7 separate regions of the Homo sapiens genome follow, and regions 1, 2, 3, 4, 6 and 7 are each reported to be linked to region 5. The links are microRNA targets in miRTarBase. Many come from high-throughput screens and were not tested one by one. Region 5 holds a microRNA gene; each other region holds the end of a gene's coding sequence. Distances are between the middles of the regions.

Region 1 (4,000 bases), not on the chromosome of region 5:
AGGTAGAATGGCCTTACATCACTGTTCAGACACCTTGGCCTCATTGTATAGGAAAATCTTAACTCTGTTTTTTTGTTTTCGTTTTTTTAATTCTTGTCAGTCAAAGAAATAGCTTCCCTGGTTTAATACTGCTTTTCTTCATAGACTGAAACAAATAATACAGCTTTCCTTTTAGTCCTTGTTCAGCCACACAACACAAACCAGTATGGCCTTTGGCATTTTACTGCAAGCTTTCCATTCGATTATTAATGTTTCCGGTGCCCATGATCAAGCATGGAGAAGACCTATAATTAATTGACTTTTCCTTTCCTTTAGGTGCAGTCGCTTTCAATCTGAAATCAAACGCTTGAAAATCTCATCCCCGGTGCGTGTTTGTCAGAACTGTTATTATAACTTACAGCATGAGAGAGGTTCAGAAGATGGGCCTCGAAATTGTTGAAGATTCAACAAGCTGAGTGGAGACCATGGTCTGTAGACCCCTTCCCGATTCTCCTGTCCCAGCTTGGAAGGCATTGAAAACAGTCTCCGTTTACACATCTCTTCATACCACGTGTTTGAAGTGTTAAAATTCAAAGGGATCATTGAATAAAACGGGTGTAGAGTACAGGAATGGGGCAGACGCGATTCAGGTGAACAGCACAAGAAGAATATGAGGTGGTTCCTAGGAGCAACACTTTCGACCTCCAGTTCTCCCTGATGACAGTAGCTGTCTCCAAGAGAAAAATCCTCACTTATTAACTCTCTTTTCTTGCATCTCATTTTTATAGAGCTACTCATCCTTATTTGGAAAAACCAACAACAAAAAAGGCTTTTAGAAAATGGTTGTAAATCTGACTTCTTTGCAAGTAACTATGTATATTGTAAATAGATATAAAAGGCCTTTTTTCTAAATAAGGACTTAACTGCCTGTAACATGAAACTTCAAACTAAACCACTAACTCAATGAACTACTTATGGTTTGTCTGACATCCCTCACTTACCAATTAATTATAAATATGTTTTTTTAAATCCCCAAAGACATTATCTGTGGTCTTTTTTTCCTTTCAAGCTCAGCCTGTGTGCCTGATGTCATTTCTTTCAAGTTGCCCACAGTATCTCCACTTAAACTAGGCTAGTAACCAAAATAATGTGGACCTTCTTTAGGAAACAGTGTGGGAGAATAGGAGTCCAGCCGTAAGATAAACTGGAAATATTTGGGCGTCTTGTACCTGGCTACGCACCACCTCAGTGTTGTTCCTACATAAACAGGGCCCCTTTTAAACTTGTATGTGGACTGCTGTTTGGTCAAAGAATACCTTCTTAGCATTGCAGAAAGGTGGTCAGATGACCAGTGTAGTGCAGGAAACAGCCCTGTCTCAACTAATGGAAATATATTTGCATGTAACCCAAAATTAGCTTATCTTGCATAGAACATAATAAGTATGTGTCTTTGGTGACACTAATGTTCTACTATAGCTTATTTTCAAACAAGGGGTAAAAAAAGGAAAGAAAGAAGTGTACAGAATTAACATATAAACTTTGTTGTAAAACTGAATCATGTCAGAACTGCTTAAAATTAACCTTTACCATTTAATGTCATCTACCTGAAAACAGTGAGATTTATACTGTATCAATGTCTATTTTTTTGTTTTTGCTATGAATATAATTACAGTATTTTAATATTTAGTTATTTAATTTGTTCTACTAGTTGGATACAGAACACACAAATCCAGGGGGATTAAAGCTGGAAGGGGCTAAGAGATTAGTTTACAGAGAAAAGGCTTGGTGGTGGGATTTTTTTAAATGTGTGTTATGTACATATATATATATATATAATATATATTAAAAATGAAACAATTAATCTAGATTTTAACATTTTCAGAAACTTAGTGATAACATTATGAACAATTCTAAAAGCCCTGTGATTTGAAAAATATAGAATCATTAATGGCCCAAGATAGGCCTTCACACCTTCACAGGTGCGAAAGGAAAGGCCTTCACACCCTCACAGAGGCATCATGCAAAGGACAGCGGCTTTGGCTTTTCCAATTTTCCATCTTTAGGCCCTGGTGAGAGGCACACTTATGCACTAAAATGCACATATATGCACATGCATTCAAAAATAGGCATTTGGTACAATGGTGATCTTGTACCTGATGGGCTGAAACCAGCTTAAGAACAAATTTGTTCTTCCTGATATGATAACTAGGTCTCCAAGAGAAAATAGAAAGGCTGCTTTAGTGCCTTACGCTTACTAAATTTAAATCTTTATTTACCTGGGTTTGAGCCTACAGTCTATTTATGATTACATATCAAAATTGATTAAAACACTTCCATTTCTAAAAGTTCAAATATACTTGTTAATAAAAGGATTATCGGCATTAATACTTTAATTTAAAGAAAAGTTGTGTTCTGTTTTCCTTTCTGTGTCTTACTCCCCCCACACTCTCCCTCCCCCATCACCATCTTCAATTCTAATAAATAATGCTGATGTTCAACAGTTGCAGAAATTGTGCTATTATGTAACTGTGGGCCTTGCCCCTGTCTGGCCCTCTAGATGATTTGTAGCAGTGTTATTCTACACTTTTTAAAAGAAGCGTCCTCCTTTTGTCCATGAATCATGTTTACCCCATACCCAGTGGCAGAGGTGTTCTTTAAAGACTTGAATATATGAATGTGTGTGTGTAGTTACTTAAAGGTTATTCCTCTTTGTAATAGGAAACTATATGGGATGAACACTTTTAAACTTTCCGACACAACTTCCATTACTAACTTTCTAACAGAACTTCCATAACTAGAAGGTGGAAACCAAAACCCTCATGGTAGTATTTCCTCTGGCAGCTGGTGCTGTGGGCAACTGTTTTGTTCAATCGGGTTTCTTTTCTTTTTGCCTCTAATGCAGAAATCAACAGAATCACTCACACATACAAGTACACTCACATACATAAACTAATTATTTCTCTGGATATCTTTCTGTGTTCCATGTAAATTTATTTACCAACATCTATTGTCAACATGTACATCTACCTTAGTATGGTCTGCATTCTTTTTCTGAGAGTACCTCATAGGGCTCCTGCCTGATCTTTGTAGTTTGTTCATTCATCCATCCACCTGTTCATTTGTTCATCCATGTATTCTAACATTTCTATGTAGTGTGCAACTCTAATGTCATGCTTTTGAAGAAGAGAATAGCTGCCCATAGCAGCCATCCGTCTGGATAATAGCAAAACACTCTAGATAAGTTATTTTGCACTTTCTTATGTATAAAGTTGGTAGAAACTTATTTTTGCTTTGTATCATTTAAATACATTTTGTTTTGGTAAATGAACTGTGTATAAAATATTTATGCCGTTAAAACTGTTTTTAGAAAGTATTTTTAATTTCAGCAAGTTTGGTTACTTGTTGCATGACTCTTAACACAGCTGACTTTTTGTGTCAGTGCAATGTATATTTTTTGTCCTGTTATTAACTTGTAAGCCCTAGTAATGGCCAATTATTTGTACAGCAACAGAAGTAAATTGAAGATACTGGCTAAGACTGGATTGATTGTGGACTTTTATACTATATTGCAGAAACCAATATCTGTTTCTTGGTGGTTATGTAAAAGACCTGAAGAATTACTATCTAGTGTGCAGTCTGTGATATCTGAATGTTCATTGTATATTTGTCTCTGATGCAAAAAGGTAGAGTAACACAATTACAATACATGATTAAATGCAATAGTCCAGGTACTTAAGTAATTTTTTTTTCATTTCAAATAAATACCTATTTACCACCAAAAGAAAGAAAAAGAAAAGTTGTTAAGTCAGTTATTCAGGGAAGGAAAAACAGAGATCTAATAACTCCCTAACTTTATGTAGTTCTTTTCTAGTTGTAAATACTTTCAGAAGCACCTGCATAAGATTGCAGAAGTATTGGCTGTTAAGGTTCCAGTTCCAGTTCTAGTTTGACTCATCCTTAAAAATCAGGCTTTCTGCAGTCTGAGCTTCTCAATTGTGCTGGATTCCCAGGGCTAATGAGT
Region 2 (4,283 bases), 84 Mb from region 5:
AGAGACTAGACCGGCAGAGTCTACAATTCTTCTGTGAAGGGAACTTAAAAGACTTTTCCACCGAACCCCTTGACAGGACAGGGAGAGCCAAGTGGGGAAAGACTGGACGTTAAGGGGCGGAGAGGAGCCTTTAGAGGAGAAAAAATGCCTTCTGACTGATGGATTTACATTTACTGGTATTCCTCATTGACACGATAAACGAGTCGATAAGCCCAACACGATTGAATAACAAGTAGAAATGCATTCTATTAGATTCATCTTCTCTGAGAATGCATTATGGTAGCTTCGCTCTTCTTGGGTGTCATGGACTGATGACTTTTCAAATATATGGTATCAATTGTGCCAGCCAATATTCTCCTTCTGGTGCTTATATTGTCCCAACTTTGGCCAGGAGGAGCCCTGTATAGATTGTTCCTTGTGTAATTTTGAATGACCCTTATTTAATGCTTTGCTTTCTGTCTCAAAAAGGTATAGGTGTTTTAAGATTACCTTGTACCTTTCAACTCCAAACTGACATGGCATCCATTACTGCTCCAAGAAACTTTGGCTCCTTTGGGAGAAAACTAACACTAGAAACCAAAATCTTAGCATTAAGATGCATTGTGGAGGTGACATTTCTCCTGGGCCATTTCAGTGGAAAAAAGTCAAAATATTTTTAATGTCATGTTTCATAAAGACATGACTTCATATTAATATGTTTGATTCAGTTCCAACAGTGCCCTGTTCTTAGTCAAATTTGGGATCCTAAAATTAGCCTTCCTTGTCACTAATCCTAAAATCTAGATTCTTATCAAAATATACAAAATATATATTATTTACTTGCTTTATCTGATAAGATAATAGTTGCAAAAATACACTATCAATACAAAGGGATAAATACTCAATAAAGTTTTTGTTTTAGACTACATACACCTACGGATTTGTTGCCAAATTACTTTGTTCTAGAATCTCTCATAATATCTCACACCATGTGGCTATGCAGGGACTTATCTGACAGGTAGTTCTGGGTCCATTGTTTCCATCCACTTTCATTTTGAAGAGGCTGCAACCTGCCCCCAGCCCCCGTTTTCTGCTCTACTTTTTCATTTTACCGTGACTTACAAACTCCCAATATACTAAATAATTCACTGAATAATAATACTGTTATTGTGTTATTATTTCTCCCTTACCCCATTGGAATGTAAGCCTCATGGAGCAGGGATTTTATTCACTGGACCCTGGCAGTTGCACCCTAAAGGCAGGACTAAGAAAGCTGGGCTTGATTCTGGGGGCTCAGGGGACTCTACTGGGTTGGCCTGCAAGAGACAGTCTTCAGTGAAACAGCAGAAGCCACTCTAGGCTGCTCCCAAATACTTATCCCCCCACAACACACACACACAAGTACTTCCCCCAATTCCCACAGGACTCAATGAGAAACTGTGAAAACAAAGCAAGCCAGTAGTGCTGAGCCTGAGCCCCTGGACTCAGTGACTGGGCATCTGGAGGGTTGGAGCTTCTAGAAAAAGAATGTGGCAGGAAGCTGTGCCTTATGATGAGAGTGACCTGGCTCCTGGTTTGCCCAGAGGAGTCCCGATTTACAGCTGTGGTCCTGCCGTAATTACTAATCACATTCCTTTTCACTCATGTAAGTGTCCAGATGTAGGGATAAATGCATTGGAGGGGCAGGGAGGAGGCCTGGGGACTTGGGATAGAAGTGCTCCAGGGGAGAGGGAACAGCCAGCTGTAGAGGAGGCAGCCCCTCCACCAATGGGGGCTGGCAGGTCGGGTGCATGGCTGGGGCTCCATAAATGCACATTCAGGGCAAGGGGAGACAACAGAAGAATCAAGAGAAATCTCTGTGTACCTATAGATGCCAAAAAATGGATGGGCACTGGGAATAGTTGTGAGAGACTCAAGCAGATGGAGGTCAGGGTCCTTTCTCAGTTCTGCGCCTGGGCTGTGACAGAAGGATAGTGCCCCCCACCACCCCACCATAAGGGGGCAGGAAGAGAGAGGAGGGAGGGTGATGACTGGAATAGTAATATGGTCTTTGTTTTTGCAAACTGAAAGTGTGTTTCTAGTTTAGGTCAAATATAAAATTAGCACACACCCTCTAACGAACAACACAGAGAAGCATACAAAATAACACAAAGGAAAAGAAGGAACGGGTCTTGAGCGATCTCATGCTCCTGGAGAGACCCCTCCAGGTGGTGAAGGGCTGTGGGCCTCTGGGGAAACACCCAGTTGATGCAGTTAGACTGTCCCACCACTGGGCTGGCTGGAAAGGGCCCAGGAAGTGAGGGTGAAGATAAACCAACTTGGAGGCTCCAGAGCTTCGAGGGGGTTAGAAAGCAAGGCGCAGGCCCTGCCCATCAATCCCTTCACCCCTCAAGAAGTTTCCTCCCATCATTCCTTCTCTGTGGTTGGCTCTTTTCTTCACCTGGTGGGGCAAAGGGGTGGGTAGAAGCTTCCAGAGGTAGGTCCTAAATGAGCAGACTAAGAGGGGCTGGGGATACCCTGAGTAAGCTGTCAAGGAAAAGAGGGTTCCCCAGGGATTTCCTGTGGGGTGGGGCCAACAGGAAAGGCTTAGGAGCACCTAACCAGGCGAAGCTTATGCCAGCTGCCTCAGTTGGGGTTCTCATGCAGCCAGAGGCTGCCCCCAACCAGGCAGCCCTGGGCTCTGGACTTCTGGGGCTGCTCCTCCGCTGCTCCCATCCCCACCCCCACCCCCACCCCGAGTCCTCTTGACCAAAGGTATCCTTTGGAGCCTCTCTGGACTTGAGGTTGAAAATGTAACTAGAACTTTAAAGACCGCTTTTGGCCAGGGTGGCCCTTTTTATTTGCTGAATTCTGTACTTTACCAACAGAAAAAAGGAGCACAACAAACATGCACATGTTACTGACTTCTGCATTCTCGTCGCATTGCACACATACATTTCACCTGCTGTCTGCAGTGTGCACACACTGTCAACACTTTACAGTAGTTCATGGATCCTCCGTGTTCATGCACATCCCATTTTCAGTGTGGCTGTGACCTTCCTCCAGGTCACCTACTGTAGAGCTCGCTAAGCCATTCCCCTCTGCACCGGCATTGGGCTTGAAGTGAACTCAACACCATTGCTCCCATGATTCCTTTTCTCTCAAGGATTATTCTGGGAAAGTGGGCTCTCCAAGCCACCCAGTGTGTAGAGTCCTTGATCATTCTCATCATACATTTATGTCCTGCTCTCCAGAAACACTGAATCAGTCAGACTGTAGAGTGTCACCAGTTTCCCTCTAGCCTTGCAAGTGCTGGGTGTATTTATGTGTACGTGTGTATATATAGAGAGAGACTCTGTGTGTGTGTGTTTAGCAGGTGTGTAGGTAATTCCCCCATTACAGATGAGAAAACTTAGGACCGAAGGGATGAAGTCACTTTTCCCAGGGTTGCTCAGCCAGCAAGTGGCAGCCCCCAGTCTAGAGGTCACATCCCCTAAGCCTCAGTCAGTGTTCTGTTAGACAAACCACCCTGCCTCTGATGGTTGCTTCTAGACTTGTAGACAACAGGCTCTTCCTACTTCTCTCATCCCTTGTCCGTGGCGGAAAACAGAAACACAACTTGTCCCCTCATGGTTTCCATGTCATGCAGACCAGGTTCTCGGCTTCACCTGGGCCCTTCCGCAAACCTATGAGATCCAGGCCCTGAGGAGTTCCTCAGGAGACATCACAGCCGTGGCACAGGCATCCACCTCCTCCCTTCTGCAGCTGATTAACTTCTGGGGTGAATTGGTTATTTTCTGAAAAATAATTTTCATTAATATTCATTAGAGGATAGCAGTAGTAGTAATACTAAAGAATATTATTACATTTTTAACTATTTGATTAATTAATTTCCAAGCAGCAAAAACAAAAACCAAAAAACAATTTCAAGCCCTAGATCAGGGGCTTCCAACATTTGCTAAGAATATCTCCCAGTTCACTACCCTACAGTTCCCTTGAAGCCCTGCTTGGTCAGAGTTCCTCATTCTAAGACCCTGCCCCACAAAAACCCAGAATGTAATTCTGGTTCTTAAAAAAAAAATTAAAGGCAGGTGCAATGGCTCACACCTGCCTTGGGAGGCTGAAACAGGCAGATCGCTTGAGCCCAGGACTTAGAGACCAGCCTGGGCAACATAGCAAGGCTCCCTCTCCACAAAAAATAAACTAGCCAGGCATGGTGGCACATGTCTGTGGTCCCAGCTACTCGTGAGGCTGAGGCAGGAGGATCAATTGAGCCTGGGAGGTCAAGGCTGCAGTTAAGCTCTGATCACACCACTGCACTCCAG
Region 3 (4,333 bases), not on the chromosome of region 5:
ACGGATCCCAATAAAGGTGCAAGACGGGAAGGAGGTGGGGGAGCTGAATCTGGAGGGAGCTGTGCGTGGCGGGGGTTCCTGTCTGTTGAGGGAGGGTGTTTGGGTCTGAATAGGGGTTCAGAATGTCTGAGTGATGGGAATCATGTGGCTCTGACTGTGTGAAGGTGTGCCCCACACTCACTCAGGCTGTGTACTTGTGTAAACAATGAGAAGCCTGGCCCCCACCCTCGTGATGAGCATACTGACCTGTTCACGGTATCAGAGCGCCTCCTGTGCCTGTGTCTGAATACATCTGTGCGTACCTCTGGCTCCAGAGGTGAACGTGTGCCTTCCAGGGCCAGAGGTTTCCAATACTAACAGCTCCTACTTACTGAGCAATTACTCTGTACCAGGCAAGGCACACAAACTTGTATATGCATGTTTCACTTACCTCACAACAGTTAATCCTCACAACAGTCCTTTGGGGTAGTACACACCATTGGACCCATTTTACAGATGAGGAAACTGAGGCCCACTGAGGTCAAGTAAATTGTTCCAAGTCTTAGTGAATGTGAACCCTGGCAGGCTGAGCTAACCCCCACCCCACCCCACGCCACCTCATGTCTGTGCGGTGAGTTTGTCTGTGTGCACTGAGGCCAGTGCCCACCCTCAGGCCCTCCAAAGAGGTGGGCAGAGTAACAGTGCCGACCTGCCTGCCACTTCCTGCCCCTGCCAGAGCTGACCAGAGCCCTGGCCTGTCTCCTCTTTCTCCCCTGTTGCAGTGGTGGTGATGCCGGGCAGTGGAGCCCCCTGCCAGTCCAGCCCACAGCTGTGGGGGCCCATGGCCATCTTCCTCTTGGCGTTGCAGAGATGATGAGAGCTGTGTGGCCACCCCCCCAACCTTGCCCCCGGCACACCAAAGTGTCCACATTGTACCAAAGACTGACCCCCGCCAGCTGGGGTGCCCAGGGGCAGGGCCGGCCCGCCAGGGAGGGGGCCTGCATTGGCTGCAAGGATGAGCAGAGAACAAGGACAGAGGCCAGGCACTGAGGCCCTGGAGACAGCTGTTCCACTTGCACACACGCACACACTCATGCTCACACACACAGAGATATATTAAAGCACAAGTTTCTATCTGACCTGCCAGCACCTTCTTTACTGCAAAGACAGGGGACTTGCCTGAATGGCATCCGCCAACCCAGGGACCTCGGCGCAACATAGGCCTTGTCCTTGCTGCACTCGTGGTGTGCTTCTGACTTTACCCTGTCCCCTAAGTCAAGGCCGAACTCCAGCCTGGTGGCTTTGCCAGAAGGGAGCCAGAAGTGGGGCAGACATGGAGCCCCTCCCTTGGTCAGACTCTGGGACTCCTGAGATGGGAGAGGCAGGGATCAGAGGACGAACAGGTGGGACTTTGCGAGCTCTGTGACTGTCCCACGTCCAGGAGACAAGGAAGGTAGGGCACCTGCTGCACACGATTCTGTCCAGAGTGAGCACTGGATGGTGGAGACCATAGGTCACCCCAGATTCCTTGACCTATTTCTGGGACACCATATTTCCCTCCTCAGTGTGCACCCTTTGAAGGGACCCAGCACAGGGTCTTGGGCCTGGGCAGTCTGAAGACTGATAACTTCCCCACTCCACCCTACAAGCAGTGGGACTCCTGAGAACACGGTTCTCTCCTAGCCTCAGCCCCCAGCTGGGTCTCAGAGGAGCTGGGGGAGCGGTGGCCAGCCCATTTTCTGGGGTGAGGCTTGACTTGGAGAAAGGCAGAAGAGACGTCCCGCTTCTGTGATTTGGTGCCCCCATATCAGACAATGAATTTGGAAGTGGAGAGGGGCCTTCATTTCTTATCTACTTGGCATGAAAGGGTGCCCTGGATAGGAGGGTGTGTACAGGGCAAAATGCCAAAAAGCACTGTCTAGTTGAAAGTTCCCTTCTCCACCCAGGGGCAGTGAAGGAGGAGGGGCTTATAGAGCTGGGATTGGTGGAGGGAGCAGGTGCCAGTCCCCTCACTCTCTGGGAGCTGTGAAAGGGATCCCTGTCCTTGGGTCCTGGGTTAGGCACCTGAGATTGACATGATGGGATCTAGATCTTTCCTCCTTGACATCACCTGAGCCCCCACCTAGCCATCCATGGGAGAGAGAAGGCCCAGCCCCTTCTAGAATGACTCTTTAGGCATGCGTGCATATGTGTGTATGTGTTTGTGCCCGTCTGTGTCTAGGTACCACCGTGGGTACATTGTTGGGCAGGAGTGTGTGCAAACACAGGTCTGTGTGTGCAATCTCACATATCTGCCTGTGAGACTGGATTGAGACCCATTCGTTTCTATGAATGTCCGTGTACGTCAGCGTGTGTGTCCACCTTCCTGAGTGATGTGTTCGCTTGTAGGGTGCTGGCTGAATAGACTCTGTCCAGCCCTGTTCTGTAGTCTCAAGCTGCCTGCGATGGCCTGAAATTCCACCTTTCATCCCCTATGGATGACGGAGAGCTTACAGATGACCCTATTGAATGCAAGCACCTTTGGTGAGGAGCATCACAGGGCTCCTTCTGGAGCATTTGGTGGGGACAGCTGCAGAGAAGAGGCCTGGAACTCGGGCAGCACTGCAGTGCCAGGAGGCAGGCGGGGAACCGAGGCAAAGGCTGCCCATCTCCCCCTGCCAGGCCTGTGTGATCATTATCACCAACAGCTGGTGGGTGGCCGGGCCAGGATGCAGCGGGGCCTTCTGATGCCCAATCAGCACGGCTGCCTTCCTGACCCAGTCAAGGCCTCTGTCTGAAATGAGTCGCTCCAGGTTCTCAGCATACACTTCCATCGCGTCTGTCGGGTATTGTTCCTTAACTGTCCCATCTGTGCAGAGTCCATTGCCCCAACTAGACTGTGAGCTCCTCCTCTGAGCCTTCCAAGTCCCCCCTCCACCTTCGCCACCTCCCGCTCGTGCCCAGCACAAGTGAGCCTGGTGTGGAAACCACTCCATTGCCCGGTGGAATGGATTCTGTAATCAGTGGTTCCTGGCCTTGCCTGCAGAATAGAACCACCAGAGTCCTTTAAAAAGTATTGCTGCTTGGTTCCCACCTCAGAGGTTCTGAGTTAATTGGACTGGAGCGCAGTCGGACATCAAGAAATGTTGAAAAGCTCCTTGGGTTCTCCTGACAGCAGGAACCACTGGCCTGGCACCACCTGGGTGCTTCCTCTGTGCCCTCGCTGGGGTAGGCATTGGAGCACCAGAGATGAATAGCCCCAAGTGCTCCCTCTTTGGGGTTCCCAAGGCACCCTGTGCCTGCTTCCCTCAGAGGACCTTCCAATCCATTTGCCCCGCAACCCTGGCTGCTCCGACAGGGGAGACTTGTCTCCCTTGTTCCCCTCAGGATCCATAGAGTGGACAGTAAAGGTGCTCAGTACATGTTGGCTGAGCTGAACTGCATACATGTGGCCCCCAGGTTCCTGGTCTTTATGGACGAAGGGCACAAGGTGGAGGGGGGATGGGGGGATGCTGCTGGAGGTCTCAGTGGGTGCAGACAGCCCTGCCTTGAGGATGGCTTGACCTGGGATTGACAAAATGTGTCTGCTGAAATGCTGAGGTCCCCACGTGTGAATGGGTGAGGCTGATGTGGATGTCTGTGTGTGCCAGCAGGTGGGTGGGGGATGTGGGTGTCAGTGTATGCCAGTGGGCACTGTAAATGTCTAGGCATGTGCTGGTCTCTGTGTGTTTGTGTGTTCCTCAGCAGGAATGAGTGTCTTTGTGTATCACCTGGTGACTTGTCAGTGTCTGTGTCTGTGTGTGCCTGTGAGCCAGCATCTCTGTATCAGTGTTGCTCATGCTGTGTCTTTGTGCGCCATGGTGTGTCAGTGTCTGTGTGTTGATGGGTGGCCCATGAGTGACCCCCGCCAGGGGAGACCAGGCTGGCTGGATCCAGCACATCTCCCCAGTGGCAGCCTCGCCCTCTGGGTCAGGGTGACTGAGGCATTTTGTGGCCTTAAAACGGGGTGTTCAGGGTCAGCCCTCAGGGTGCTGGGGCCCTTCCATCCCTTGTCCCCTTCAGGTTGGTGAAAAGGACTCCGGGGGCCAGGTGCTGTATAGCAGCTTATGGAAGTCTCAGCTGGGCTATCCTGCCCTTGGGAGCACAGACAGGCTCCTAGGGTGCTGAGTGAAGCCTGAAGACCAAGCCCCCTCCTCCTGGAATGCTCCTTCCACCCCTACCTCTCAGAGATGGGCCTGACACCTCTTTCTCATTCATTCTCCTTTTCCCTGTGCTCTGGGAAAGCCCCTGGCTCAGGCTGTCAGAGTGAGGATGGACCTCAAAAGTTTGATCCCCTCGTGCAGATGAAGAAGCTGAAGCCCAGAGTGGGGAAGGG
Region 4 (4,333 bases), not on the chromosome of region 5:
TAAGTTACCTTAAGAAATATCTAGTAAGGCTTCCAGGGTAGTGAAGTTTGAGCAGTAATTTTCTTAGAGCTTGACCTTTGTTTGTTTGTTTCTTGCTGTTTTCAGAGTCCTAAAGCAAGAAAGAGTTTAATGGACTTGCCTGCAGGACAGCAGGCTCCCCAGAAGACAGTGCTGTGCTAAAGCCATTTACTCTAGCGGGAGAAGCCAGTGTCAGTGAGGGAAAGGAATAAAGCAGGGGAGGGAAAAGTCACTGGTTTAGAGCGACCTCTCAAAACACAGGGTTATTAAGTCATCTCTCAAACACAGGGGACTGCAGAAACACAGACACCCTCACACACTCAGCTATATACACAATGACACGTATCTGCTGAGCTACACACCTGCTACAGATAACACAGATGTTAAGATGTCTGACATATAAATGTGCTATCCGTCTGGTAATACACTCAGAGAAATGCTCACATATATGGAAATAAAAACGCACAAACAAATATGCATCCCCACTTAGGGATACTTACACAGCAGGACCCAGATTGGAAGGTAAACCAAGGACTCACTTTTGTTGGTTTCACTGAGTGGCTGGAGCACTCACTCAGTACGTAGGTTGGAGTGGCAAGGTAATCAATTTCTGTCAGTCCAATATGCTGGTAGCATCCCACAGAGCTACAGCCCTTAGGTAAATACATGCACTCGAAAGTGATTATGAGGCAAAATGAGAGAGAAATCTACCACCAACTACTGTAGAGAGGGCAGGGGTGAGCACTTTATCCCTATCCAACACACACCTGCACAGCTAGTCTCTCCATTAAAAAAGGAGTCCCAAGCCCCAGGCAATGAACTACAACACAGCAAACACACCAGGTCACCTGCCTCTTACCATTTGCTGTAAAGAACTTGTCTTCCATGTAGATGTCAAAAGGCAAGAACAGAGGCGGGGGAAGGGAGGTGATGATAGTTGGGCAAAAATTTGGTGGTCAAGTATTTTCTCTAGGGCTTACTTTATGAATTTTAGCCAAAGTATTACAGATTTGACTTAACATTTTGATAATGCAAAGGATGGATGAACTATATAGCTTTAAAATCCTCTCTGAGAATGCATACAGAACTTTTTAACATTCAGTTCATGGACTATAAAAACTGTCCTATCTTCAAAAGTACATATTTAAGAACAAATTATCTACCAGTTAAAACATCACCAGGGAAGAGAGCAATCTCAGATATAGACTCCTCATTAAGTTCTTTAACACTCAATGCTCTAATTTTAATAACGTAGGATGAAAATTATAAAAAATCTATAAACATATAAGGCAAATGAAATCCTGTCTACTATAATGTGAACATACATTCTACCAGCCTTAGGGCGAAGTTTACCCCCTTTTAAAAAGAATAGCCTACCAGTTCCAAGAATTGAAATAAAAATGCATTGTGTTCAATTGTGGGATGCAGCTTTCTGAAACCTTAAATCTTTTAAATGTCATTTACATTGTTCCCACTGCAAAAGTAACTCAAGCTATAAAGAGGTTGAAAGTGCAAAGGCTTTACAAAGATCCTGCATTTTATTTTGTTATTCTTTCAAAAAGAACTCAATACAAAGTCAATATAAAAAAATCAATACTCAATTTAAAACAGAAACAGTAATTTCTGAATGTCTAACATTCTCCTATGCAAAGACTGGGAGAAAGAGGAAGGGGGAGAGAGAAAATAAATTCTTTAATTTAAACCTTTCTTCACCCTGCTGGGAATGCACATGCCAGAGCAAATGAATCCAGCTTAACCCCTTCTGGACTGGTCATTGAAGATAGGGTTGGAAGAACAGTATTTTAGAATGGTGATGAACAGTGTCATTATTAACTATATGTACATACACTTATGGCACTTGGAACTGCACTGTATCCATGACGTAGCAACCTCTGACACAGCCCGTCTCACACTTGCCATCTCTTACCCCATTTCCCAAAATATTTCCTGAGAAAGATATTGTAAGGAACTTCCAGTTTGAAGGGATCTAACGGCAAAAACTAAGAACAAAAGCACCATGGTTCCATGGTATGTGTTTTTTATAAACAGAAACACATAGTTGAATAGTACATCTTGGCTCCACGCCACACCTATGGGTTCCCCCTTCCTTCTTCTCCAGCATGTCTTTTCAAGCTGAAGGCTAGTAATTGAAGAATGTTGTTTACTTTTTCAGGTACAGGTGTATTACAAAGATCCAAAGCCAATTTTGATTTTTACAATGACACAAAATACTGTACCACTTGTGGAGTGTATGAAGCAGTAAGGGAGTAAGGGGGTGTGCACACATACAAAGAGCATTCGACAATGTCATCCTGTACTACAGCAAGATGGCTGATTACCGAAATACTGGAAAAAGCAAGAGTGAACACTTTTAAAAGGTTTGTTGCAGATACAGGAAGGCAAATGGAGGCAAAGGCAGCCCAGTGCAAGAGGTCCGGATGGGGCTCCTGAAGGAGCTCCCCTGCAGCAGGGCTCCGCCAGGATGGCTCCTCTGCCCACAACCCAGTCAGTGTCTGCTCCCCCAGGGCCAGGGGAAAGCCCACTGAAATCAGCTGTGTTTAACAGACAGACCACAGATGAATCTTTCTGGACAAGATGGGCTCCCTACTCTCCCTTCCCCAAACTCTGTAGAGTGTCCATTTTCCTTCTCCCCACTTTATCAGCAACTAAGAGTGGGAGCAAAACCAGCCTCTTTCCTGGTCCTAAGTGGCAGAGGCGATGAGTTGCACAGTGACGGTGGTCAGAAAACACAGGGACTGGACAGCAGCAGTTGCCAGCGTGGTTGGCATGGTTTGGTCTCCTTTGGCAGGGCAGCTTGCTCTAAGCTTGGGAAGAACTTACGTCCCCAGGAAATTAAGTGGCTCCAAGTTGCACCTGCCAATCCCAGAGTCACAGTGTTAGTCTCCCCTGGTTGGTGTAGAACAGTGGGGAGGAAAACTGGGCAGTGTGGGGCTCCTGCTGCAGCCTAAAGGTGGCATTCCCACTGCCCTCTCTCCCTGTGCTTTACCTGCTGGGCACCCCACACTTCCCTATGGAAACAATGCTGGGACTGACTTGAGGCTTCACACAGAGCCGGAGGGCACACATGGAGAGCCAGGGCTGCCAGCCAGGTGGGGGCAGGATGGCATGGAGGCCAGGTGGGCAGCTGCAGGGCTGGGAAAGGGTTACCTGCTTCAAGCCAGCAGAGGGGTGGGATCAGAAACAGGGCAGGTAGGTTTTCTCTTTGGGAAAAAAACAAAATCAAATCACTTAATAGCTGTAAACGACAGTGTACATTTTTTGTTGTGATCTTTCTCTGAAGAACCTAAGGCAACAAAGAACAAAGATGAAGGCAGGTATCTCCTGAACTGCCCACGACTTTCATGGGTGATGTGATACTGGACATTAACATACACAAATACATATGTGGACGTGTCGTGACTGGTTTCCTGAAACAGAATAAAGATGTGTCCCCTGGAAGTCTACAAGTGGGCTGACCAGAAGCAACGGGGGACTTGGTACTGGACGAAAGGCAGGAATTAGTTGTAAGGCGAGGCTCCCAAGAAGCACCAGCTCCACTTTGGTTTACAGCTGTAACAGAAGCTCCAAGGAATGGCTTCTTGAGAAGTCCCATCGACAAAAGTCAGATGTCATCAGTCACTCTTTTTCAGGGTGGACAGCCCCTGCTTCCTTCCAAATAAAGTGCAGATGGTCAAAGGATACTGGTCAATCATCTGCCAGTTTCAGTCAGCAATGAAGAAGAATTTTTAAAAAAGACACCCCTCTGGCATAGATATATATCTCTCTATATATTTTTCTTTTTTTTTTAATAAAGCCACAAATATAGAACTTTTAAACGGATGTCTCAGACTGTAAGCGAAGGACAAATTTGTGAGATTTGGGGTCTATGAACTCTTCAGAGAGTATGATGAATGGAATTTTCTTCACATTGACTACGAGGCTGAAGTCCAAGCACTTAAGGACGAACACAATTCCATCCCGTAATCCATTAGTCACAGCCTCATCACTGACAAGCCTCCACTGTGTAGAGAGCCAGCGGTCCTTGTCATATTGCAGGGTGGGGCCCGCACTGAGGTACCGTTCTAGGAAGGCCTGGAAGCAGAGGAGAAAGGCCATTAGGGAAGAAACAGCCTGTTTTAAGGGCAGTACTGCCAGGCGGCTATCCACTCTCACATCTATAAAGAACTTTTTCCAAATAAACCAGCTTAGACCAGAGCCCAGCTCATCACACTCAATTCCCATCAGACCCTCACAACTGAGTCATTACTGGGGAGGGAAGACTTCTTGGACTTCCTCACTCCCCTTTACCTACTAT
Region 5 (4,311 bases):
TGTGGGCATTCGGGGATGAGGAGTGGGGGTTTATCTACACAGAACTGGGGTCAGAGGGCGGAAGCCACGGTTGGGGAGCCCGTGGGCTGGCCAGGGCATCGGCACACTGAAGGTCACAGACTGTGGAAGCTGCCCGTGGCACCACATGGCTCAGTTAAACTACCAGCCAAGAGAGGTGTGTGACAGGATGTTTGCCGATGTAGAAACATGTATTGTCGCAAGGCCTAAAAACCACCATCAGATGGTAGCAAGCCGAGGGCAGGGACTGTATTTCATTAGTTTTATACATCCCAAGGCTTCATCTAGAACAGACATTTAAAGTGGATGGATGCTAAGAATTGACAAGCTCTTTGGAGTAGTTGCCACATCAGACCAAATGCAGGACACATTCATAGAGTTAAAACAAGTTTGGTTTTCCTAGAGTTGGCGTATGTGGGTGATGGGGAGGAAGTGCTGCTTGCTCAGCGTGGCAAGGAGCTGCTCATGCAGGGACGAAGCAAACCTTTTTCCACTGAAGTATTAGGAGGACGATGAAGACGACAGACTTTTCAAAAATCATGATCACGATGTAAAGAGCGCACTGCCCGACCCAGGCTCCACACTGCAGAGGGTCTCCTGCAGGGACAGGCGGGTGCTTAGTCACATGGGGCCCAGGCATCTGAGTGAGATGATGTCCCCACCCCACTCCCCCACACGCACCCCAGAACACTGGCTCTAAAGCTCTAAAGGTACTTAATGAGCCCCCCCAAAAGTCCAAAGGATTACCTCATCCTTAACAGACAAATGCAGTATTTTAAATAAAATCAGAGAATTCCTTATTTGAAGATACTAAAATGGCCTTTCTTTTAAGAGATTCTAAGATAGGATTAAAAAGCACTAAAGTTAGGAAGTGCTCATTGCTGGAGCTCAGAAAAGCTGTTCTTTCTGCCGGCTGGCAGCAGAAGCTGTATGAAGCAAGACTGCTATTCTTATCCGTTGTTGATTTTTCCAGTGACAGCGGGGCTGCCCCTCCCTTCTCTGTCCATGAGTGGACTGATGTTTGTGGATGATGAAGCAGGACCCAGTCGCTTTGTTTGTCTCCCACCTCCCCACCTCCCATCCCTTACCCAACTCCCCGGGCCATCCCTGATACCTCAGCCTCTTGAGAGCAGAAACGTGACTCTGGAGGAATTTGGACTCTACCTGTCCAGCATGGGTCACCCCAAACACCTTGGCCAGGGACAAGGAAGTGAAGAGAGAAGTCCTTGGGGCAAGGAGGTGGGAGGGATGGGCCGGGGCCCAGGGCTGTGACAAAGGTCCATCTGGGACCCCTTCAGTCACCATGCTTGAGAAACCGAGGGACCTAGTAGTACAAGCTGGAGGATGTGCAGGCCTTGGAATGCCTCCAGGACATTTTGAACGGAGAGAAGACCAGCCCCTCCAGGGAATGATCCTGTGATATGAAGAACCCTAGGGTGGCTCCTGGGAGCCACATAGGCCTCCCCAAAGTGGGAGACCCAGGGGAGAGTGGGATGTGGGAAGGTTGCCTGGGGCTCACCCTGGAAGTTCTGCCAGAGCTGCCTTACCACAGCTGGCCAGAAGAGGGGGTACAGGGTAGCATTTTGGGGGTGGCGGGGGGGCGGGAGGCTGGGGGGTAAAGGCCGTAATCCAGGCTATGAGAAGATAATTTGGTCCAAAGAGATATCTCCAGCTTCTCACTTGGCTTTATTGTTTCTGCAGCAATCCCTGTTTGGGCACCCATGCTGGAGGCCCATGCCCTGCCCAAGCCTGTCAGCTGTACACAAGGGAATGACTTTATGCAGCTGCAATGGACAAAACACCAGGCCATTCCCTTTTCTGGAAAACCCTGGGAGAAGTGTGGCAGAAACACATCAGTCGCCTCTTCTGAGGTCTTCCTTTCTACTTTCACTTAAGGGATAGGAGACATTTGAGCCAAAAAACCCATTTCATAAGCATAATCCCTCCTTGCTAGGTTGTTAATGAGTTTTGCAATCCTTTTCCTTTCGGTAAGTCACCTAACCTTATCGAGAACAGTTCTCAAAACAACAGATGAACTTATTTGTGAGAAACCATTAAGTAATTAAGTAGGTTTGAGGACAGTTGGACAGAAAGCGCCACTAGGAAATCTCTCTGTGAGGACTGGAGTGTTTGGGAGCCAGCGGAGCGCGCGGCACCGCTTATTTACTATGGAAGGATGTCCGCTCGCTCAGTGTGCTCACTCCATCTGCTCTTCAGTTTTAAGTGACTGACAAGGAGGAAAATGCTTTTCCTCCCATACGCCTCACATTGCCCCAGTGTTCTAGGTTTCTGCTACACAACTTAGCTACAGCTGCCTCTTTAGATGCTAAAATAAGAAAGTTCAGAAACGTGAGAAAAGAGAAAAAGCACCTGTGACCCCGTCTGGCACACCATTTCCTCTGGGAACCCAGATCTCACGCAGCCACCGTTGGGAGAAGCACACGTGGCTGCTGTGTTTCCTGATTCCTGTTTCACTTGCGAGTCTTTCAGATGTCCCCCACAGTCTCCTCTTTAAAGGACAGACATGCCAGGCAGTGTTGCATGTCCTGCTTTGTCATTGCTGTTATTGTTTTCTTAGAGATGGGGTCTCACTCTGTCATTCAGACTAGAGTGCAGGGGCATGAACACGGCTTATTGTATCCTCAAACTCCTAGGCTTGAGTGATCCTCCTGCCTCAGCCTCCCAAGTACCTGGGACTAAGAATGCATGTCATGTGCCTGGCTAATTAAAAAAAATTTTTTTTTTTGTAGAGACGGGATCTTGCTTTGTTTCCAAGGCTGGTCTTAAGCTCCTGGGCTCAAGCGATCCTCCCCGCTTAAGCCTCCCAAAGTGCTGGGAATGACAGGTGTGAGCCACTGCACCTGGACCTTGTGTGTCTTGCTTTTTACTGCAATGAACAACCTCAGGCATGTGGGTGTTTTGTTTGGGTTTAATTATTTCCTCAGTAGAAGTCACAGCAATAGGGGCCAAAAGGAGGGAACACATCTGTGGCGAGAGGCTTTCAAAAGGGAGAGTTTGGCCAGGGATGGGCAGCAAGACCCATGAAGCACCGTGACCCAGATGTCAGGGCTTCCACATGGGAAAGAGTGGCCTGGTAATCAGAGTGCAGACACCATGCGTCACCTGGATCTGGTCTCAACCGCCGGGGCTGTGTGGCTTATTTCCCTGAGTCCCGCATTCTCATCAGCAAACTCTTGGCCTTCTCTTCTAGGAACAAAAGACACATCCTAGAAAAATAAGCCCCTCTTCTTCATTTACATGAGAAGAGAGCTGTGGTACCTCTTCCTCAAATGGATGGGCAGGATAACAGGTGTGGGAGGTGGAATAACAGCCCCACACAGTTGCCTACATCCAAATCCCTGGAACCTGTGAGTGTGTAGCATCACATAGCAAAGGGGAATTGAGGCTGCAAATGGAATTAAGGCTGCTAGTCAGCTGACTTTAAGACAGGGAGAGTGTTCTGAGTGTCCAGGTGGGGCCAATGTAATCACAAGGACACTTTAAAGTAGAAGGCTGCAGGAAGTCAGGGCAACTCGATGTGGGATAAACCCAGCGACTCTTGTTGGCTTGGACGACGGAAGGAGGGGCCGCGAGCCAAGGCTTACAGGCAGACTCTAGAGGCTGGAAAGGGCGAGAAAACAATCTTCCCAGAGGCTCCAGAAGCCAGCCCCATTGACACTGGGACTTTAGCCCAGTGAGACCCATGACAGACTTCTGAACAAAAAAAGATAATCAACTTGTGTTGTTTCAATTTGTGCCATGAAGTTTGTGGAAATCTGTTACAGTAGCAATAGAAAACAACAGAAATTGATGGAAATAGAAAACAACAGGTAACTGAGCAGACAAGCTATCCTTCCTCAGCCTGGGGAAGACTCAGGATGGTCCCCACAGCTTTATTTGGAGACATTCTGGCTTGAAGACTCTGGCTCCCAAAGGCAGTGGTGGGATGACCCAGGGGCAGGGGCTGAGGCAGGCCAAGAGATTGAGAAAGAGGCTGAAACAATATCACTGCCTTCTTCCTTTCCATCCACCCTTGGGGATGAAGACAAAATGTGAGGGAACAGCTGGTAGCGTTAATGCTTGATGTATCCGAACCAGACCTGATCTTCACTCCCAGGTCACTGAGTGGCACCTGACAGACTAGTGGTGACCAGTGGATTCACCTTAGCACTGGTCAGCTATAGTAGAGCTGGGAGCCACACCTTCTAGAAGGGATCTCAACTGCAAAGTAGTTGTGAGCACTGTTTGTGGGGGTGGTGGGAGGGTTTAGGTATCCTGGTGCAGCAGGCCCAG
Region 6 (4,333 bases), not on the chromosome of region 5:
CTCTGATTTGTCTAAATAAAATAAAAGGAAAAAACCTTTTAGCATCACAGATATGCTTTGGCTGATTAAGATCAGTTAGAGGTTTTGTCCTTCTCTGCTACTCATTTGCAACCTGATTCTAGGTGATCTTCTTGGCCTCTATGTGATTCATCTGTAAACCTGGAAGAATATTTTTTTAAATATCAATGTACCCCTGAAGTACTGGTATAATGAAATAATGAATATAAACCTGTTATAAATATGAAGCACTTTTTAAATTTCACATAATAGTAATGGCATTTATCTTTGTGTCTTCATCATTTAAAAGTAAAATTCACGGCAGAAACTTGTATGTACAGTGTTACGTGTCTTGTGTTTATATAAGTTAAAAGTTGGATGATGAACTTTCATCATCCAACTATGAATGGTTGTCATTCATAACATAAACCAAGAAATATGTGTGCAGCAGAATATACCCATTTGCAGAAAACAGTAGCCTTCTTCTCTGGTTGGAAATACAACGACACTTTAGACCAATCAGAAACTGAGATTTCCTGAGGTGATGAAACTCAAGAACCATTTACTTGGTGGCTTTTTGAAATGTAATTGACGTAAGTGATGCAAATTTGCAATATAAATTTTCAGCATACTTTCATCTTTTAGTCATTAATGCTCTTCACTTCTTTCTCTTCTCTCCCTCCTCCTCGTTGCAGGGTGAAATCGCTCCGTTTTCTTGGGCAGCCCTACATGGTAAATTCAGGTCTCTGCTTACAACAGAACCTAGGGAAGATTTGTGACAGATGGGGCTAAGTCACAAACTTGCAGCCTAAGGCAGAATCTGAAGAACTTTCCAGAGTGTGCCCATATTTACCTGATCAGAGAGAAAAGAAAATCTGCAGAGGAAGCTGAGCCTGGCTGCTTGTCATAGCTGACACAGAGCCATCTGCCACAAACCTGTGGCGGCTTCAGATCTCCAATCCCTGCCACCACCCCAACTCAAATTAAATACAGATTCCTAGAGACGTTATGATGGTTACACATGTCCTCGGCATCACATGTAGGAGACTGTTCAAAAAAAATATGTGGCCTGTTGTATAACCGCACTCATGTATCCCATATGTGGTGCCACATTGAATTTCCGGTTGAATCCGTTTTTATCCTTTGTACTGGATGACATGGTGCCTGAATTCTTTCTTTTCGCCGACACGATGGCAGCCAAACTGCAGCTTCAAACGCTCACACTTGGCTGGGTTTCTACCTAGGTTGCCAGGTTATCATCGGAGCCTTCTTGTGTCCTCAAAGGGCCACGAGGCCTGAAAGGAGGATCAGAATGCTTTGGGATTAATTGGGCAGCCATCGCAGAATTGTTTGTGGGCAAAGGGCTGCTTTAGCACTTTTCTTTTAGCAAATTAATGACTCTCAGGCACAGGGGGTTTTAAGTGAAGGTATTAATAAGAGGTCTGGCAGGTATTCCCATGATTCACAGAGTTACATTTGCATTTAATTAATCTTAAAGTTGCAAGATAAACAGCTGTAATTCGGACAAACATGACAAACACAGTGAAGCCAACTATCCCATAAAATGAACACTGACATACTTGTTTTAATTTTTTTCCCAGCGTAAAAATAGAAAAATCAAAATACTCCTAACAAAACCAGTGATTTTGATAGAAATATTTCTCCAATATACTTGCATCCACCTACAAATATAACCTTTTCAAGATAAATCGCTTATGATTTCAATAGTCAAACTGCTGTGTTTGTTGATGTAAAGATGTTTTGAATGGCTAGATGGTAAAATAAATTCTTAATAAAGTACCCACTGCAATTTTTAATTAGCATATTCATTTACATATAGATGTATACATCTACCTATGTGTTTCTCACTGAACGTTTTCCTTGTGACAGAGACAACAAATACAATTGTTTCTTTTCCGGATGAACAAGGATCTGTTTTGCAAATGTTTGTAAGATATTATGACATTTCCAAGATTTTCTTTGCATTCTGGAAAGCAGGAGGTAAACATTTGTAGTCATTAAGGTAAAGTCTGTTGATAAACCATCTTCTGTTTACTGACAGGTAAATTGTAACTTTCCCTAGCTTTTGAAATGAGTAACTTCTATACACCACAAAGTGAGGCACAGCCTGGGAAAGGTGGCTAGACAAGGGGCAAGCCAGGCTTTCTAGCTTCTGGAAGGATCGAGTGGCCTAGCAGGCATCTAAGATAAAGAAAGCAATGATTCGGAAGTCCAGTAGGGCCCATTTGACCGGTAGCAAAATCGAAAGCACGAAATAGATCAAGGTTAGGGAGCCAGACAAAGCCCTTGGAAGAGAGGCAGTATTGCAGATCGAAGCAAGCAGTTCAGAGTCTATGAGGCCTGGGAATTTAAAAGCAGGAAGAGTAAGAAGCAGAAACAAGAAGCTCCATCTGAACAGACTCCTCTCTCCAACCTTCATGAGACCCACAGTGTGTGATGGGCCACCACAGCACTGGCTTCTAGACTTTTACAGGGAAGCCAGTGAACAAATTACCTCGTCACCCAGAAAACAAAGAGCTCAGGAACTATTTTGGAAGTTCCTTCCAGTCTAAGACTATGGAACTCAGAATCTAGCAGGTGTGTTCCTTTGGATAGCAAAACTAAAGATATAAATATGAATAAGAAATTCTTTGCCACTTCTCCTGGGCAAGGTTATACTTTATGCCATCTACTGAGATAAACCAGATGAGTCAGTTTGCTTCTGTCAGTTGCTGTGTCACAGATGACATCTTCTCAAAATAATATTATCTCACAGCCAAGAAATAGCGCTTCGTTTACTGTGTTTTTCTATCCTGAAACTAAATGGGCTTACGCTTCATAGTGGCTAAGATACTCCACACACAACTAGTACCCATAGATCTTTTCTCACTGATAGGAAAAAAAAAAAAAAAGCATTAAACACCTTTCAGAGAGTACATCTGAAACATTTACGTATTTTCCTGATTTAGGCAAATATAATATTGAAAGTTACCTGTATGTGGGCATTTTTTTCTACACTCATAAATGCAAATCAAATTTTGCCATTAGCTGTGGCCAACATTCCTTCCAGGACAAAAGCTTACATTAGGCCGGGTGCGGTGGCGCACGCCTGTAATCCCAGCACTTTGGGAGGCCGAGACGGGTGGATCATGAGGTCAGGAGATCGAGACCATCCTGGCTAACACGGTGAAACCCCATCTCTACTAAAAATACAAAAAAAATTAGCCAGGCATGGTGGCGGGTGCCTGTAGTCCCAGCTACTGGGGAGGCTGAGGCAGGAGAATGGCGTGAACCCAGGAGGCGGAGCTTGCAGTGAGCCGAGATCGTGCCACTGCACTCCAGCCTGGGCGACAGAGCGAGACTCTGTCTCAAAAAATAAATAAATAAATAAATTTAAAATAAATTTTAAAAAAATTACATTAAAGGTGTCACTTATTTGCATGATACCGAGATTTGGAGTTTAAAGAAAAACCTTATAAAGACTGTAATGTCAGAGTTGCTACTAGTTCACATAAGCAATAAAAAGTTTTGTAAATGTGTAATTCTTAACATTTAAAAATATGTAGGAGTGTGTGTGTGTGTGTGTGTGTGCACACGCACATTCATGCTTCTCAACACCCACGACCTAGTGGAATGGAGTGTTATTAAATAAGTTAATCAGTATTTTGTTGAAATCTCAGCAGATAATTAGTACTACACGTTGACTCATTAATTCAGTTTCCCTTATCAACCACCCCCATCATTTATTGTTTTGAGTATGTTTGATGGAAAACTTAGTCTTCCTCTTTTTTTTTAACACTCGATTGTTTTTTTCTTTTAAAATAAAGTCAATTTTAATTTTAAATGTCTTTAAAAGTCCATCCATTATCAAGACTTTGACACAGTGTCTTGAAATACAGCTTGCCCTAAACTTAATCTATGCTTCTGGCTAGGTGTTTCTATAACAAATATCAGGGCACCTGGTTCTTAACCTTCTCATTTATACTGTGTTGACAGAAATAGATGCAAATACCTTTTTAAAAATGCTCCTGGTTTAATAAGCATCCTTCAAATACAGTTAAGTTTAAATGCCCTGCTCCTGTTCTCAGTCCTTCAGACATCAATATGGCAGGCAGAATCCATAAGTCAATGGAAACTCTTAGCCATAGAGGGCTGCAGAGATTAATTTCAACACCTTGAAATGCATCTGGAAGCAAAGATTTCATTTTATGTTGAAGGTGTTAATTATATTTGATATTTTTAAAAGTAAAATCTGTTTTTGAGAAAGCATCTGCTACCCAGAAATATTATGAGCCACAAAAGAAATTTTACTGAAGTCTCAAGATACTTTCTGTGG
Region 7 (4,333 bases), not on the chromosome of region 5:
AATAAAACCAAACAAGTACACTTATCCAGGAAGAAAAACAAAATTCAAGCTGAACCTAGCCGCTGTCTCAAGGATCCTTCAATTTTTCAGGTTGCAAGGCAACTAAGACTGATAGCAGCTAAGCCAGATCAGTTGATTAAGTGTCCCCGTCGGAACCAGCCAGTCATTGTGTTAAACCACCCTGATGTGGACTCGCCAGAAGTGACCAATGTGATGAAGGTAATAAATAAATACAAAGGCAATGTCCTCAAAGTTGTTTTATCAGAGAGGACTAGGTGTCAGCTAGGCATCAGACGGCATCATGTACGCCTGACCTACCAGAATGCGGAAGAAGCCAGTCAAATTAAAAGGCAAATGATGTTGAAAATGAAACTCAAAAAAGTTCATAAAAACAACTACCAGGTAGTGGATTCCTTGCCTGATGATTCTTCACAGTGTGTATTTAAGTGCTGGTTTTGTGGGCGACTGTATGAAGACCAGGAAGAGTGGATGAGTCATGGCCAACGGCATTTGATAGAAGCAACTAGAGATTGGGATGTTCTTTCCTCCAAGGGCAAATAAGTAAACAGTTACTCTTTAAAGCAAGTTATCTTTTAGTTTATTCTGGTTTGGAGTCCCTCCACCAAGATTCAGTAGAAGAAATACAGACTGTAGAAATGAGAGGACTGCTAATTCTTCAGAACTGTAGGAATATTGGGAGCTAGGAGTCTGAACCTGAAGTATGTGATTGGACCCCAGAATGTATTTGAAGGCTCTGAAATTGTACATGCAAATTGGTACATATGCATTTTTCTGGAGAGAGCCTGTGAAACTGAACAGATTTTCAGTGGGATCTGAGACTTTTCTTTGTTTAGCACCCCGTTTTCTGAGTACATACTGATCTTTCATAATCCATTCAGAGGGGCAGATTGAGAATGTTTTACACATGCTCTTCATATAAATGCTACAGAAAAACCTTTGTTTTGGTGTGCACATCCATTTTGTTTTTGCTTTAATTTGTGTTCTGAGTATTTGGTGCACAATGGAAATTATATTTTCTACTTTACTGTCTTCAATTTGGTTATAGAGAAATGGCCATTCTTTTACTCCCTCCCTGGTTTTGTAATACTCCCGAGTGTTCCGTATAGCACAAAGAGTTTTGCTTTTACTGGCCATTTTAAAGAATGTTTTCAACTGCTTGCCTGAATTTACTCCTTTCACAGCAAGTGTTAGAAGAAAGATAACATTTTCAAATACTTAGCTTTTGCTTTCTTTAAAATACATTGGTTTATGACATATGGGAAGGGAACGTACCTTTTTGCAAAGACAAAAAGAGATTACAAAAGGAAAATATCTAAAACTATTTTCTCTTTGCCCTTACCACTCCCAGAAACATAAGTGACCAATTTAAAATGCTAGGGAACAGGCTTACAACATAGGTAAAACTCGCAAACACAGTTCAAGGTAGGCTCATAAAGTTGTGAAAAGGGTTTCATATGCCCTTTAGTTTTCATTTGGGATTCATCCAAAGACCATGGGTGGATGCTGTCTTCTCTCTTCTTGATCCCTTTGATTCATGGACACTAGACTCCCTTTGCCATTTCTTCTGAACCGGCCCTCCTGTGGACTAGCACAACTTCCTTGCCCACTGTTTCTTCCTTTCTGTGCCTTTGAGACCCCTTAAGGTTTTCCCTCATGCGATTACTAGAAAATGGCAGGAATCAACAAAATGGAGACCTCCCACTGTTTTTGCTAAAGTTACAGGAACACGATCCCTAGTTTTCATTGATAGTAACGCTGTTTCTAATTTGTCTTAACCACATTCATGCTTACCCTGCTGCTCAGCTTTCTCAGGGAAGCAACTCCAGGAACACTCCTTCCACTCCCCTCTCTACCAACAGATGTCAGGACTGTCATTTATCTACACATTTGTGTTCTTTAGAAAAAGGCCCACCCCCTGCACAAGCACAGCCTCTTGGGCAGATAGGTGGCTGGGTCAGTGCTTAAGACAGGATTCTAGTCTTCACTTGCCTGTGCAGCTGGGCGCTGACCTTCCAGGTAGAGCACAGATGGCACAACCCCGAGGCAGCCCCAACTTGCATTTCCCTCCCTCCAGGGGCTATTCCTGTCTTAGGCGATTTGTGGGGTGCAGTGAATGAAACTAAAGAGTTGTTGCACCTGAAAAAGACACCAGTGATTGTTTATTGGGTAGTCGATTGGAGACTTTGATTTTTTTTTTTTTTTTTCACATGGGAAAGTCTTAGATTCCAGTAGATGGAATTGCAATCCTTTGCAGTTTGTTCTCATTACAGATAATCAACATTTCTTTTGTATAATTCAATACATGATCATCAAGTTAATTGGTAAATTTTTATTGAAATTTAAAACTTGCATTTTTATATATGTGTATGTGTACACATAAAAATATTTTTTACCATATGAAAATTGCAGTAGCTAATTTTCTGATTTCCTATTTTATAATGATACATGGGCTGGAAAAATGTAGAACGTTTTTATATTCTAGAAATTTATTTTGGAAGTACATTTTTATAAGGGTCTAATCTCACTTTTGGAAAATGAAAGCACAGGAATGATGGGGTCTGGTTTATGTGAACAAGTGAGTAGAAACCCCTTTGGATCATTTTATTACTGCATTTTTATTTGGTGCTTTTTAGGAAGTAGATCTTTGGTACCACTTCACTACGTAGAGCATTCGAAGTTTTATCCATGTTATATATTGTACTCCTGTGGCATGAAAAATAGCTCCCAAGATATAGAGAGGAGAGGAGTGAAGAAAAGGCTGTGGTTTTTTTTTGTTTTGTTTTGTTTGCCACTTTTTTATCTCCTATTCCTCACCACATAGTGCTTTTTCCTGAAAAGCTGGACTGAGAATTGGCCTTGAATCAGGTCAGAGTGTTAACTGTCAACATGAAGTATTTTCACTTCGCAGCATCAACTTTCAAGCATAAGTAAAAACACAACTTGCATACTTTGATGGAGCTTAATTGTGTGAGTAGAATATGTAGCAAAGCTTTTTAGGATTTTCAGAACTAGAATACTTTTTAAGGAATTAAAAGTGTTTCTGGAAGTCAAAAATGGGAAAGCAAAAAGTAGCTGTCCTCCCTAAAGAGCTTTAGAAGATAGCTTAACCTGTAGGTACATGTTATGAAATAAACACATTTCTAACAATACAAGGGAGTAGGGGCAGACCTGTGTTGAGTATTTGTGTGGGTTCTTAATTTTGAAGGACCTCCAATCACTACATTTTGTTAATACTGCCAATAAAATCATTTTCAACTTATTTTTTAAAGTAGGTTTTCTTACTTTGGTGGACCAGAAGTGAGAGATTGTTATATTTAGGATATAGGCAAATACAGTAAAAGTTAAAAAAAAAAAACCTGACCCAAAGTATACTCTGATAGACTATATTATATTCAATTTTGTATCCCCAGTCGAGAACATCTTGTAAGCCTTCATTAAGGGCCACCTGCTGTCTGTTGAACTAGACTGAACAAAATATATTTTCTCACAAGCTCCATCCCTTTTTCTTTAGGACATGTTATATATAATCCATCTCAGAAGTTGAAGATGTGATGTTGCTCGGCCTTTGGAATAATTTTTAAATCTGTAAATGTCTATATGAGCAGAAACAAAACATTGTGTAACATGTTTTAAGCATTATTGTAATTCCTGTGTTAACAGTTTGTGTGTCTGCTGCTCTGGTTTTGAAACATGTTTGTATATAGATACAGGAGTTGGCATAAATTTTGTTAAATAAAGCAACAAAAATTTTCTTTGCCCTTTGATTTCAAACGTTATGCAGGTGACTTTATTACATAGCCTATTTGTATTATACATTTCTGAGTCAAAGGCAAGGCGTCATTCTACGTAACAGGTGTTTTGAATTCTACCAGGGTATGTTTTGAATTAGATGCAATGATGGGATGGTTAACCTTGCAGACCCTAATATGAGGCCAGGTTATGTTTTTGTTTTGTTTTGCTTGCAGATTCACAAGAGGTGCTGGTTTGGACAGCAGTGGCAATTTTCCTGCCATGGTTAGGGGCCTCAGCAGAGAATGTATGTGGGCCTTTAACCTGCCTTCCATGTCTTGGGTAGAAGAGTTCCCAGTCAGTGATGAGCCCCTGGACCACGTGTACTTGCACTATTGATGTCATCTCTCCAAATGATCTCTTGCACCCGAGTCCACATATATTTGGGTTGCAAGAGTATGAGGATATTTAAAGAGGCACTTAATTTCCTCATCTCACTCCCAGGGCCCAAGGAGTCATAAGGGAAAGGAAGAGAATTGGACTTGTGACAAATACTGGCAGATCTGAGGAAAAGGGAGGTGAG

What was found. The annotated mature microRNA hsa-miR-8064 reads AGCACACUGAGCGAGCGGAC and lies in region 5 at 2,197-2,216, opposite strand. An mRNA with a match to its seed (bases 2 to 7 or 8) in the 3' UTR can be bound and repressed. Matches are read on the target gene's strand: a 7mer-m8 pairs with bases 2 to 8, a 7mer-A1 pairs with bases 2 to 7 and ends in A, and an 8mer does both.
Region 1: the mRNA of WDFY3 is a reported target of hsa-miR-8064. Seed matches in the 3' UTR shown: 8mer at 3,131-3,138 and 8mer at 3,606-3,613.
Region 2: the mRNA of IL20RB is a reported target of hsa-miR-8064. Seed matches in the 3' UTR shown: 7mer-A1 at 2,936-2,942 and 7mer-A1 at 2,903-2,909.
Region 3: miRTarBase lists MDGA1 as a target of hsa-miR-8064. Seed matches in the 3' UTR shown: 8mer at 1,543-1,550, 7mer-A1 at 2,233-2,239 and 7mer-A1 at 2,253-2,259.
Region 4: the mRNA of VANGL1 is a reported target of hsa-miR-8064. Seed matches in the 3' UTR shown: 7mer-A1 at 2,297-2,303.
Region 6: the mRNA of QTMAN is a reported target of hsa-miR-8064. Seed matches in the 3' UTR shown: 7mer-m8 at 834-840 and 7mer-A1 at 3,584-3,590.
Region 7: the mRNA of ZNF518B is a reported target of hsa-miR-8064. Seed matches in the 3' UTR shown: 7mer-A1 at 966-972.

What each region holds. Positions count from the first base shown.
Region 1 is chr4:84,669,307-84,673,306 of GRCh38, reverse strand. It overlaps WDFY3 (WD repeat and FYVE domain containing 3), which reads left to right. Exons shown (of 68, transcript NM_014991.6): 68 at 316-3,710. The coding sequence ends at 439. Among named protein-coding and RNA genes, the nearest start is that of CDS1, 88 kb to the right of the region's middle.
Region 2 is chr3:137,009,585-137,013,867 of GRCh38, reverse strand. IL20RB (interleukin 20 receptor subunit beta) reads right to left here. Exons shown (of 7, transcript NM_144717.4): 7 at 2,783-3,755. The coding sequence ends at 3,645. Among named protein-coding and RNA genes, the nearest start is that of IL20RB-AS1, 30 kb to the right of the region's middle. RefSeq lists a cis regulatory region at 1-90.
Region 3 is chr6:37,633,888-37,638,220 of GRCh38, reverse strand. MDGA1 (MAM domain containing glycosylphosphatidylinositol anchor 1) reads left to right here. Exons shown (of 17, transcript NM_153487.4): 16 at 1-16; 17 at 762-4,333. The coding sequence ends at 853. Among named protein-coding and RNA genes, the nearest start is that of MDGA1, 62 kb to the left of the region's middle.
Region 4 is chr1:115,690,896-115,695,228 of GRCh38, reverse strand. It overlaps VANGL1 (VANGL planar cell polarity protein 1), which reads right to left. Exons shown (of 8, transcript NM_138959.3): 8 at 1-4,110. The coding sequence ends at 3,850. Among named protein-coding and RNA genes, the nearest start is that of VANGL1, 51 kb to the right of the region's middle.
Region 5 is chr3:52,844,327-52,848,637 of GRCh38, forward strand. MIR8064 (microRNA 8064) reads right to left here and starts at 2,226; the gene lies at 2,137-2,226. It overlaps STIMATE-MUSTN1 (STIMATE-MUSTN1 readthrough), which reads right to left. Exons shown (of 10, transcript NM_001198974.3): 5 at 503-615. STIMATE (STIM activating enhancer) reads right to left here. Exons shown (of 8, transcript NM_198563.5): 5 at 503-615. RefSeq lists an enhancer at 159-659.
Region 6 is chr2:143,943,495-143,947,827 of GRCh38, reverse strand. It overlaps QTMAN (queuosine-tRNA mannosyltransferase), which reads left to right. Exons shown (of 12, transcript NM_001376312.2): 12 at 693-4,333. The coding sequence ends at 776. All of the region lies in intron 2 of QTMAN-AS1 (QTMAN antisense RNA 1), which reads right to left. Among named protein-coding and RNA genes, the nearest start is that of QTMAN-AS1, 8.6 kb to the right of the region's middle.
Region 7 is chr4:10,439,332-10,443,664 of GRCh38, reverse strand. ZNF518B (zinc finger protein 518B) reads left to right here. Exons shown (of 3, transcript NM_053042.3): 3 at 1-3,785. The coding sequence ends at 561. Among named protein-coding and RNA genes, the nearest start is that of ZNF518B, 16 kb to the left of the region's middle.